Linked DNA regions of Homo sapiens: region 1 is linked to region 2. The links come from fine-mapping of genetic effects on gene expression. Tissue or cell type: thyroid. Region 2 holds a variant in brackets; the other region holds the start of a gene. All regions are shown on one strand. Distances are between the middles of the regions.

Region 1 (5,143 bases), 86 kb before region 2:
GTACCCTGGAGGATACCCTGGAGACGTTGACAGGAGTAGCTCAGGTGAGGCCGGGGGAAGCAGGAACAGCTGGTGGGAGTGTGCTGGGCATCTGGACACTGAGGGGCAGGGGCTGGAAGGAAGAGTGTCTTGGGAGCCGAGGAGGGGCTCTGCTCCTGGTGCGCGGCCACTGACAGCCACTCTCCCCCAGCTGGTGGCCAAGGCTCCTATGTACCCCTGCTTCGGGACACGGACAGCAGTGTGGCCTCTGGTGAGAATCCATCGTCCCGAAGTTGGATGTGCCTGTAAGGGAGAGGGGTGGGCCAGGATCCATCCTCCCAAACCGACCACCACCCCCCTGTCCCTAGAAGTCCGCAGTGGCTACAGGATTCAGGCCAGCCAGCAGGACGACTCCATGCGGGTCCTGTACTACATGGAGAAGGAGCTGGCCAACTTCGACCCTTCTCGACCTGGCCCCCCCAGTGGCCGTGTGGAGCGGGGTAAGCAGGAGCCTTGGGGTCTGAGGGCTTTTAAGGTGGGGGGGTGAAACATGTCTCCCTGATACCTGCCGCAGGGACTCTTGGTGCAAACCCTGGACCCCGGGCTCCTCCAGCAGTCAGTGACACCCCCCTTCCCTGCAGCCATGAGTGAAGTCACCTCCCTCCACGAGGACGACTGGCGATCTCGGCCTTCCCGGGGCCCTGCCCTCACCCCGATCCGGGATGAGGAGTGGGGTGGCCACTCCCCCCGGAGTCCCAGGGGATGGGACCAGGAGCCCGCCAGGGAGCAGGCAGGCGGGGGCTGGCGGGCCAGGCGGCCCCGGGCCCGCTCCGTGGACGCCCTGGACGACCTCACCCCGCCGAGCACCGCCGAGTCAGGGAGCAGGTCTCCCACGAGTAATGGTGGGAGAAGCCGGGCCTACATGCCCCCGCGGAGCCGCAGCCGGGACGACCTCTATGACCAAGACGACTCGAGGGACTTCCCACGCTCCCGGGACCCCCACTACGACGACTTCAGGTCTCGGGAGCGCCCTCCTGCCGACCCCAGGTCCCACCACCACCGTACCCGGGACCCTCGGGACAACGGCTCCAGGTCCGGGGACCTCCCCTATGATGGGCGGCTACTGGAGGAGGCTGTGAGGAAGAAGGGGTCGGAGGAGAGGAGGAGACCCCACAAGGAGGAGGAGGAAGAGGCCTACTACCCGCCCGCGCCGCCCCCGTACTCGGAGACCGACTCGCAGGCGTCCCGAGAGCGCAGGCTCAAGAAGGTGAGGGCCGCCCTCCCTGGCGTCCAGACCGTCCCTGGGCCCCCAGCCGGTCCCCGCGGCTCATACCCTTCTTTCTTTCTCCCTTGCAGAACTTGGCCCTGAGTCGGGAAAGTTTAGTCGTCTGATCTGACGTTTTCTACGTAGCTTTTGTATTTTTTTTTTTAATTTGAAGGAACACTGATGAAGCCCTGCCATACCCCTCCCGAGTCTAATAAAACGTATAATCACAAGCTCTGGAGAGAACCATTTGTTCGGCCGCGCGGGGCGGGGGACCGGGGCTGCTCCCGTATGCGTCTGTAAAGCGCCGCGTCCCGGGGGCACCGGAGTCCGGGGCCGGGAGGAAGAGACCCAGCCTGGCCCGGCCCGCGCCCGCGCCGCCGGCCGGAGAACGTGCCCCGCGCAGCCGCCGCCCGCCTGCGTGCGCGCCCCGGCCCCGCCCAGGCGTGCGCATGCGCCCCGGCCCTCCGCCTTCGCGCACCGCAGGCTGGCCGTCCGGGACGCGCGCGCGCTCCTCTCCCCTTCCAGCCCATCCCCCCCAGCCCCCCACCGACCTACTTTACTGTCTCCAAACTCGGGCAGCCCACCTGGCCCCCGACGACCCCAGCCCCTGCACCGGGTACCCCGACGTTCCATCCAGACCCGCGTTTCACCAGGGCGGCGCGCGGCGACCTCGCGCCCCGCGGAGCCCCGGGCTCGCGCGCGCCCGCCCGCCCCCGGAGACAGACCAGCGCGCGCGCCCCGGGCCGCCTCCCCCCAGCGCGCGTCCGCCCCGGGGCTCGCGCCGCCGCCGCCGCCGCCGCCGCGCGCGCGCAGCTCAAGTAAAGGAGGAAAAAAAAAAGGGGGAAAAATAGAAAGCGGCGGCGGCTGCAGCAGCGATCCGCCGCCGGACTGGGCCAAGCCGGGCGGCGGCCGCGCGAGCCGGCGATCCAGGGCACTGGCGGCGGCCAGCCAGGGCGGGCCGTGTTCAAAAAAAAAAGTCGCGGCGGCGGCGGCTGCTCAGGGAAGGAGGCCTGAGGGCCGCGTGCAGCGGGCGGGCAGCTGGGTGGGCTGGGGGCGGCCGCGCGGCGTCCCGGAGCCTCGGGCCGCCCGGAGCCGGCGGGCGGGCGGAGGCGGAGGCGGCGGCGGCTGCAGCGGCTGCAGGAGCGGCGGCGGCTGCGGCGGCGGCGGCGGCATCTCCTCCTCACATGACCCCACTGTTTGTCCCCGTGATCAGCGCGAGCGGCTCCCGTATCTCCTCCGTCCCCTCCTGCCGCGCGGCGTGAGCGCCGGGCTCGGGGCCCCCCCGGCCGCCCGCCCCCTCCCCTCCCTCCCTCCCCTCCCCTCCCCTCCCCCCCGGGCCCCGCGCCCCCCCCGCCCCCGCCCCCCCCATGGACATGCTGGACCCGGGTCTGGATCCCGCTGCCTCGGCCACCGCTGCTGCCGCCGCCAGGTAAGATCCCCGGCCCGGCCGTGCCCCCGCGCCCCGGCCCCGGCCCCGGCCCCGCGGCCTGCAGGCCGGGGCCGCCATGATCCCGAGCGGCCGCGGGCCCGGCTCAAAATGGAGGCCGCCGGCGCGGGGGGGACCTGGCGCCTCCCGCCCCCGGCCCCCGGCCTCGGCGGCGCCCCCGGCCTCAGGCGCGGCCGGGTGGGACTGGGGCCCTGCAGCTGGGCGCGGGGGCGGGGGCGCGGGCGCGGGCCGCGCTGACCCTGCTCCCTCCTGTGCCCCTGGCAGCCACGACAAGGGACCCGAGGCGGAGGAGGGCGTCGAGCTGCAGGAAGGTGAGTGCTTGCCGGGCCGGCCGCGCCCGGGGAGGGCTGGGGGCGCTCGGCGCGGCCCTGACCGTGCCCCGACCCTCCTCGGCCCCAGGCGGGGACGGCCCAGGAGCGGAGGAGCAGACAGCGGTGGCCATCACCAGCGTCCAGCAGGCGGCGTTCGGCGACCACAACATCCAGTACCAGTTCCGCACAGAGACAAATGGAGGACAGGTGAGCGGCGGGCCGCGAGGGCGAACGGGCGGGCGGGCGGGCGCGCCGGGAAGGCTCGGACCTGGCCCCAGCGCCGGCCTCGCCGCTCTGCCGCCCCCTGCAGGTGACATACCGCGTAGTCCAGGTGACTGATGGTCAGCTGGACGGCCAGGGCGACACAGCTGGCGCCGTCAGCGTCGTGTCCACCGCTGCCTTCGCGGGGGGGCAGCAGGCTGTGACCCAGGTGGGTGTGGACGGGGCAGCCCAGCGCCCGGGCCCCGCCGCTGCCTCTGTGCCCCCAGGTCCTGCAGCGCCCTTCCCGCTGGTAGGTGCCCTGCCACCCCTGGGTGGGGGGGGGAGGGAGTGGAGAGGGGACACTGGCTCTGCTCTTGGGGAGCCCCGGGGGTGGGGCAGGTGTCGCCCAGCGGATGCTGCCTTCAGGCCTCAGGCTGCATGGGGCCAGATCCCTGTTGTGCACCGTGAAACCTGGGGACAGTGCTCTTGGAATTTTTTTTTCCCGCAAAATGGGAATGATGTGTCTTAAGAGGAAAGTTTCTTAGAGTGCGAAACGGATTTGCTCAGCAAGTGATCGCTGACCTCCCGCCATGTTCCAGGGCTGTTTGAAACACAGGACAGAATGCTACACGCAGAAGGAGTCCCCACTCCTGTTAATTGCAGAGAATGCAGTAAACCCCAAGCACAGCAATGAGGGGACGGGATGGAGGAACAGAGAAAGCTAAGGGTAGCCTCTGCCCTCCTACTCCCCAGGCTGTGATCCAAAATCCCTTCAGCAATGGTGGCAGTCCGGCGGCCGAGGCTGTCAGCGGGGAGGCACGATTTGCCTATTTCCCAGCGTCCAGTGTGGGAGATACTACGGCTGTGTCCGTACAGACCACAGACCAGAGCTTGCAGGCTGGAGGTGAGGAGTAGAAGTCAGATTGGCAGGTGGGGGAGGCAACGGGCCCAGCAGGGAGGGAAGCCCCCCCAGCCAGTTCTGACTTCACCCTGCCTTGCCACTAACCCCCCACTCTCCCTGCAGGCCAGTTCTACGTCATGATGACGCCCCAGGATGTGCTTCAGACAGGAACACAGAGGACGATCGCCCCCCGGACACACCCTTACTCTCCGTATGTGCAGGGGACACCTGGAGGGCCTGGTGTTGAAATGGAAGGAAGAGGGGTTTCTGGAGTAGAAGCTGGGCAGTTAGCATGAAGTGGGCACATGGTGTAATGTTTTTTTTCTTTGCCTGTTTCTGCTGCTCTAGTGCACATAAAGTATCATGTCTTTTGTTTTTGCAGATGGATTTACCTTGCAAAGATAATTTTCAAATCTAATACTTAGCAGATGCTTGGGCAAACAGCTCTGCGATAATACATGCCCCCTTTTTTTTTCCTCCTCTTGTAGAAAAATTGATGGAACCAGAACACCCCGAGATGAGAGGAGAAGAGCCCAGCACAACGAAGGTGAGGACAAGGTGTGGCTCCGGGTCCCCCTGACCACCACCCTCACAGGCTCAGCCAGCCCTGGAGTGTGGAGTGACAGAGAGAGAAGCCACTCCTGGGCAGGCCACAAGTGCTCCAGAGGGCTTTGCTGGACGCTGTAAAGGTAGAAAGTGAGCAACGAGGGGAGAGTACAGTGTCAGAAGTAGAGGGACAGGGAGTGTGAATTGGAACTGGCCATTTGTTGACCCGGCTGGTGATCTTGAATTCATGGCCCACATCTAAGATGGTGGACTTCACACTCCCATACGGATTGCCTGCCCCACTTGAAAAATGGGGCTGACCGGGCTCACGTGGGCTGACCTTTCCACGTGGCAGCTGTCATGCTCACATCCCGCACTCCCATGCCTGCCTGGCCTCCAGAAGTAGGTCTGTTCCCCCAGGGAGCACATCTGAGGGAGAAACTGCATGAAGTTCTGCCTCTGGCTACCTAAGGCCGGAGCATCCTGCCCTT
Region 2 (5,143 bases):
CTGGCTGGACCACAGCAACACCTCCCTGGGCATCAACACACCGGTCAACGGCTCTCCGGTCTGCCTGGAGGCCTGGGACCCGGCCTCTGCCGGCCCGGCCCGCTTCAGCCTCTCTCTCCTGCTCTTTTTTCTGCCCTTGGCCATCACAGCCTTCTGCTACGTGGGCTGCCTCCGGGCACTGGCCCGCTCCGGCCTGACGCACAGGCGGAAGCTGCGGGCCGCCTGGGTGGCCGGCGGGGCCCTCCTCACGCTGCTGCTCTGCGTAGGACCCTACAACGCCTCCAACGTGGCCAGCTTCCTGTACCCCAATCTAGGAGGCTCCTGGCGGAAGCTGGGGCTCATCACGGGTGCCTGGAGTGTGGTGCTTAATCCGCTGGTGACCGGTTACTTGGGAAGGGGTCCTGGCCTGAAGACAGTGTGTGCGGCAAGAACGCAAGGGGGCAAGTCCCAGAAGTAACGCCACTGCTCGGGGGAAGGAGCATGGGGCAGGAGGGCCCGGCTGCTTCTCCAGGCCCCTGCGGGGGGCTGCTTCGGAGGAACTGCAGGGCAGCCTGGCCCGGAGGCCTCCCTGGAGCCACTCAAGCAGAGAGCGGCGCCTGCTGAGGGCAGCACCCCAGTCAAGAGAGGAGCACCGAGCCAGAGCACGGTGGCAGGGGGAGGTAAGTTTGCCCCTGCACGTGTCGAGGAAGTTTGTCCCTTCCTCGCCTATCTTTCTCTCCCCTCTGCACGTCCTCACCTGCCTGTCTTCCGTGGGCCGCGAGCAGAGGCCTTGTACTTACGGGAAGGAGGAGGCAGTCTGTTTCTGACCCACAGGAACTGCCACTCCGGTGATGCACTTGAGGACAGCTACTCTGAAATCAGTTCCCAGGAGAGAACATTTGATTTCCGAGTAGGAGAGGAGGCAGGAGGCAGGATAATGACGCTGTTATACCATGTGAAACTCGCAAGGGGGCAGCCTTGGAGCTTGGAACGGAGGCTGGCAGGAAAAGATGCTTCAGCCGGGGAGGGAAAATGCAAGGTCCCGCAGTGATGGGCAAAGGCTACGGAGTTGACTCTTGAACAACGTGGGGATGGGGTGCCGAACCCCACGCAGTGGAAAATCTGTGCATGACTTTGACTCCCCCAAAGTTCAACTACTAATAGCCTACTGTTGACCAAAAGCTTTACCCAGTATATAAACAATTGAGTAAGACATATTTGAAGCCAGGCACAGTGGCTTATGCCTGTAATCCCAGCACTTTAGGAGGCCGAGGCGGGAAGACTGCTCGAAGCCAGGAGTTCAAGAGCAGCCTGGGCAAGATAGTGAGACCCCCACCTCTACAAATAATAAAAATAAAAATAATTAGCTGGGCGTGGTGGTGCGTGCCTGTAGTCCCAGCTACTCAGGGGTCTGAGGTGGGAGGATCCCTTGAGCCCAGGATTGAGGCTGCAATGCCATGATCGCACCACTGCACTCCAGCCTGGGTGACAGAGCAAGATCCTGTCTCTGGAAAAAAAAGAAAAAAGACATATTTTGTATGTTATATATATTATGTGCTGTATTCTTACAATAAAGTAAGCTAGAGAAAAGTACATGTTACTGAAAACATTATTAGAAAGAGAAAATACCTTCACAGCACTGTGCTGTATTTATCAATACTGTAAGTTTTGTTGTCTGTTTATAAGAGAAGTTGTCTGTCTCAAGCGGCAGTAACCGCGGCTGCAGATCTCAATCTGTGGTAGATATCAAGCAGTTCAACCCTTTTTTATAATGTCATGACTTTTCTTTGCTTCTTGGAAGCAGCTCTGGCATCACTAGTGGCCCCGCATTTGGGGCCAAGGGGGTTATTCAAAGTTTACGGTATTGCATTAAACATGGTGAAACATATGCAATGACTATGAAAGATCACTTTTTACTTCTGTACACAGTGTACTGGCGAGAACTGCTCACCAGGAGGTGATTAGCTTCACGTGGTGTTGGAAGCAGATACTCAACAGTTGAGCTCACGGAGAAAGCACAGGAGGTGGCTACGAAATTATTATAGGAGTACAGTATGTCTACAGTAAATATGCACTTATGACTTTAATACTGCACATCTTTATGTTTGCTTGCATTTCTCTTGACTTCAAATGGCATCAAATAGAGTTTGTGTTTGCGTGCATATATTTTTGATAAATTTTAACTTTTTTGTTTTGTTTTGTTTTTAGACAGAGTCTTGCTCTGTCTCCCAGGCTGGAGTGCAATGGTGTGATCTTGGCTCACTGCAACCTCCGCCTCCCAGGTTCAAGCAATTCTCCTGCCTCAGCCTCCCAAGTGGCTGGGATTACAGGCACCTACCACCACACCTGGCTAATTTTTTGTATTGTAAGTAGAGATGGGGTTTCACCATGTTGGCCAGGCCTGTCTCGAACCCCTGACCTCAGTTGACCCACCCGCTTCGGCCTCCCAAAGTGCTGGGATTACAGGCGTGAACCACGGTACCCTGCCAATTTTAACTTTCTATAAGAGATTTGCCCAGCCTGGGCAACATGGAGAAACCCTGTCTTTACCAAAAATACAAAAAATTTAGCTGGGCATGGTGGCGTGTGCCTGTAGTCCCAGGTACTTGGGAGGCTGAGGTGGAAGGATGGTTTCAGCCTGGGACGCAGAGGTTGCAGTGAGCCGAGATCATGTCATTGCACTCCAGCCTGGGTAATAGAGCCAGATCCTGTCTCAAAAAAAAAAAAAAAAAAAGCTTTGTATCCATTTTGGCATACATAGACTAGTATGT[A/G]TGGCAGTAAATAGACTAGTGGCAGTAAATAGACTAGTACCTACATATATTTTTTGTATTCGTGGCATACTTAACTTTTGCTTAATTTTAAAAATATATTTCTAGGCTTGTAGTTCCTCTGTAAGTTTTTTCAAATTGTTGCAAATCTCTGAAAATGTTTCCAATGTATTTATTGAAAAAAATCCACAAGTAAGTGGACCTGCACAGTTCAAACCTGTGCTATTCAAAGGTCAACTATATAGTCTGTAATACGTGATGGGTGTCACGCTGAGTGTCTACAGTGAGTGTTGTCTCACTTCAGCTTCACACAACGCTGTGGTTTAGCCTTGCCACTGCCGTACGGATGAGCGGGTGTTCACTACACGAAGGTACTGGGCAGAGGAGCAAACACTGACTAAATTCTAGCCTGTGCTTTGCTCAACAAGCCACATGCCTGCCTTGCTTGCATCAAGGGAAGGAGTATTGTGTTCTAATTTGAAGAAATACACCAGCCACTCCTTAGGCAGCACTTGGTGCGGGATGGGCTCCTCTGGAAAGGGAGCACCTAATTTGCACAAAGGTGCTGCACCAGGTAGCTACGATCCTGGAATGGGATGAAGAAACTTGCCTAAGGCCCTACAGCAAGGAAGGGGTAAAAGCAGGATGTGATCCTTCCAAGCAGAACCCCCAAGAGCCAGGGGACATTTGGGAAACCTGGGGGTGTGGGGGTTAACCCTGTATTTGTGGTCCATTTCGCAAAGGATAGCATCCCACATCCATGAGAGGGAGGTCAGAAGGGAGTGGCTGTGGCTGTGAAGGAGACAGACACCTGGGCACCTGCTCTAAATTACAGCAATGCCATGCACATGATGATGTATTGGAGCACAACAAATGGCAGCCACCAGCTGGGGTGCACGCACCAATTTCTACAAATGAGCTCTGTTCAGGCTGAAATGTCTACGCATGCAAGGATTTTTCTTGTAATTGATGATATATCCCCAGCGCCCAGAAGACAGAGTGGCACGCAGTAGGTGCTCAGTAAATGTTCGCTCAATGAATGAATGAATGCCTCTACTAGCCTTCCAAAGAAAGTTCTATGTCTGTTTTATCAATATGGAAACAGGCCAGAGAAATTAAGTAACTTCTTTTGGAAGCCAGAAACAAGCCCGGCACTTGTGCAGTGACAACACCAGGGAATTTCAGTAAAAACCCAAACTCCACCCCAGGGAGCCCCAGTGCCTCCTCCCGCATCACAGGGTGCCAGGGCCCACTCTCTTTGACTCCTGCTCCATAGCCCCTGCTGGGTACTGGGCTGCTTCTCCCAGTTCCTCCTGCCTCCCCCCACTTAGGGCAAATCCAGTGCCTCCCTGGGGCCCAGGAGACTCAGTGTGATCCACCCCAGGCGCCTCTCACTCCTGTGAGACCCAAACCTCCTATCAGCTCCCCCAGCAGGCCAAGTCTGTGCACCCGTGACTCCCCTGCCCCAATGTTCCCTCCAGTGGCTCTTTGCCTCTTCAGTATCCACGTCTTCATGATCCTTCCCCTACTCCATCCCCCAAGCCCTCACCACCAAATGTAATGTAAACAGCATGACAGCAAAAACTTTTTGTTCACAACTGCGTGTTGTTTTTTTTTTTTTTTTTTTTTTTTAGACACAGTCTCACTCTGTTGCTCAGGATGGAGTGCAGTGACACAGTCATGGCTCACTGCAGCCTTGAATTCCTGGGCTCAAGCGATTCTTCCATTTCAGCTTCCCAAGTAGCTGGGACCAGAGGCACATGCCACTAAACCCAGCTAATTTCTTTTTTCTTTCTCTCTTTTTTTTTTTTTTTTCCCCTGTGGACATAGGGTCTCCTCATGTTGCCCAGGCTAGTCTCAAACAACCTGTGCTCAAGCAATCCTCCCACCTCAGCCTGCCAAAGTGCTAAAATTACGGACCTGAGCCACCGTACCCAGCCTACTGCTGCACTTTTAACAGCTTAATTGAGATATTATGTACATATCATCAAATTCACCAATGTTAAGTGTACAATTCAATGATTTTTAGTAAATTTACTGAGGTGTGAGTCCATTACCATCAGCTAGTTTTAGAACATTTTCATGACCCTAGTAAAGGATTTTACTTCATGTTCATTTAAACTTAATCTTGGGCCAGGCGGGGTGGCTCACGCCTATAATCTCAGCATTTTGGGAGGCTGGGGTGGACGGATCACCTGAGGTCAGTAGTTCGAGACCAGCCTGGCCAACATGGCGAAACCTCATCTCTACTAAACATACAAAAATTAGCCAGGCGTGGTGGCGGGCACCTGTAATCCTAGCTACTTAGGAAGCTGAGGCATGAGAATTTCTTGAACCCGGGAGGCAGAGTTTGCAGTGAGCCAAGATTGCACCATTGCACTCCAGCCTGGGCGACA

Evidence for each region. PIP is the estimated chance that this variant, and not a neighbour inherited with it, causes the effect.
Region 1: it holds the start of USF2, and the variant in region 2 is fine-mapped to the expression of USF2 in thyroid (GTEx, PIP 0.91).

The regions. Positions count from the first base shown.
Region 1 is chr19:35,266,489-35,271,631 of GRCh38, forward strand. It overlaps USF2 (upstream transcription factor 2, c-fos interacting), which reads left to right and starts at 2,474. Exons shown (of 10, transcript NM_003367.4): 1 at 2,474-2,675; 2 at 2,958-3,004; 3 at 3,093-3,211; 4 at 3,315-3,515; 5 at 3,959-4,109; 6 at 4,230-4,317; 7 at 4,595-4,653. The coding sequence starts at 2,614. It overlaps LSR (lipolysis stimulated lipoprotein receptor), which reads left to right. Exons shown (of 10, transcript NM_205834.4): 6 at 1-44; 7 at 191-250; 8 at 348-479; 9 at 621-1,246; 10 at 1,336-1,476. The coding sequence ends at 1,371. RefSeq lists silencers at 1,255-1,334, 1,415-1,484, 1,585-1,734, 2,893-3,082, 3,223-3,542 and an enhancer at 3,830-4,569.
Region 2 is chr19:35,351,998-35,357,140 of GRCh38, forward strand. It overlaps FFAR1 (free fatty acid receptor 1), which reads left to right. Exons shown (of 2, transcript NM_005303.3): 2 at 1-1,867. The coding sequence ends at 457. Among named protein-coding and RNA genes, the nearest start is that of FFAR3, 3.9 kb to the right of the region's middle. RefSeq lists an enhancer at 189-1,055 and a silencer at 3,032-3,131. The variant A/G (reference allele first, on the strand shown) is at 2,751.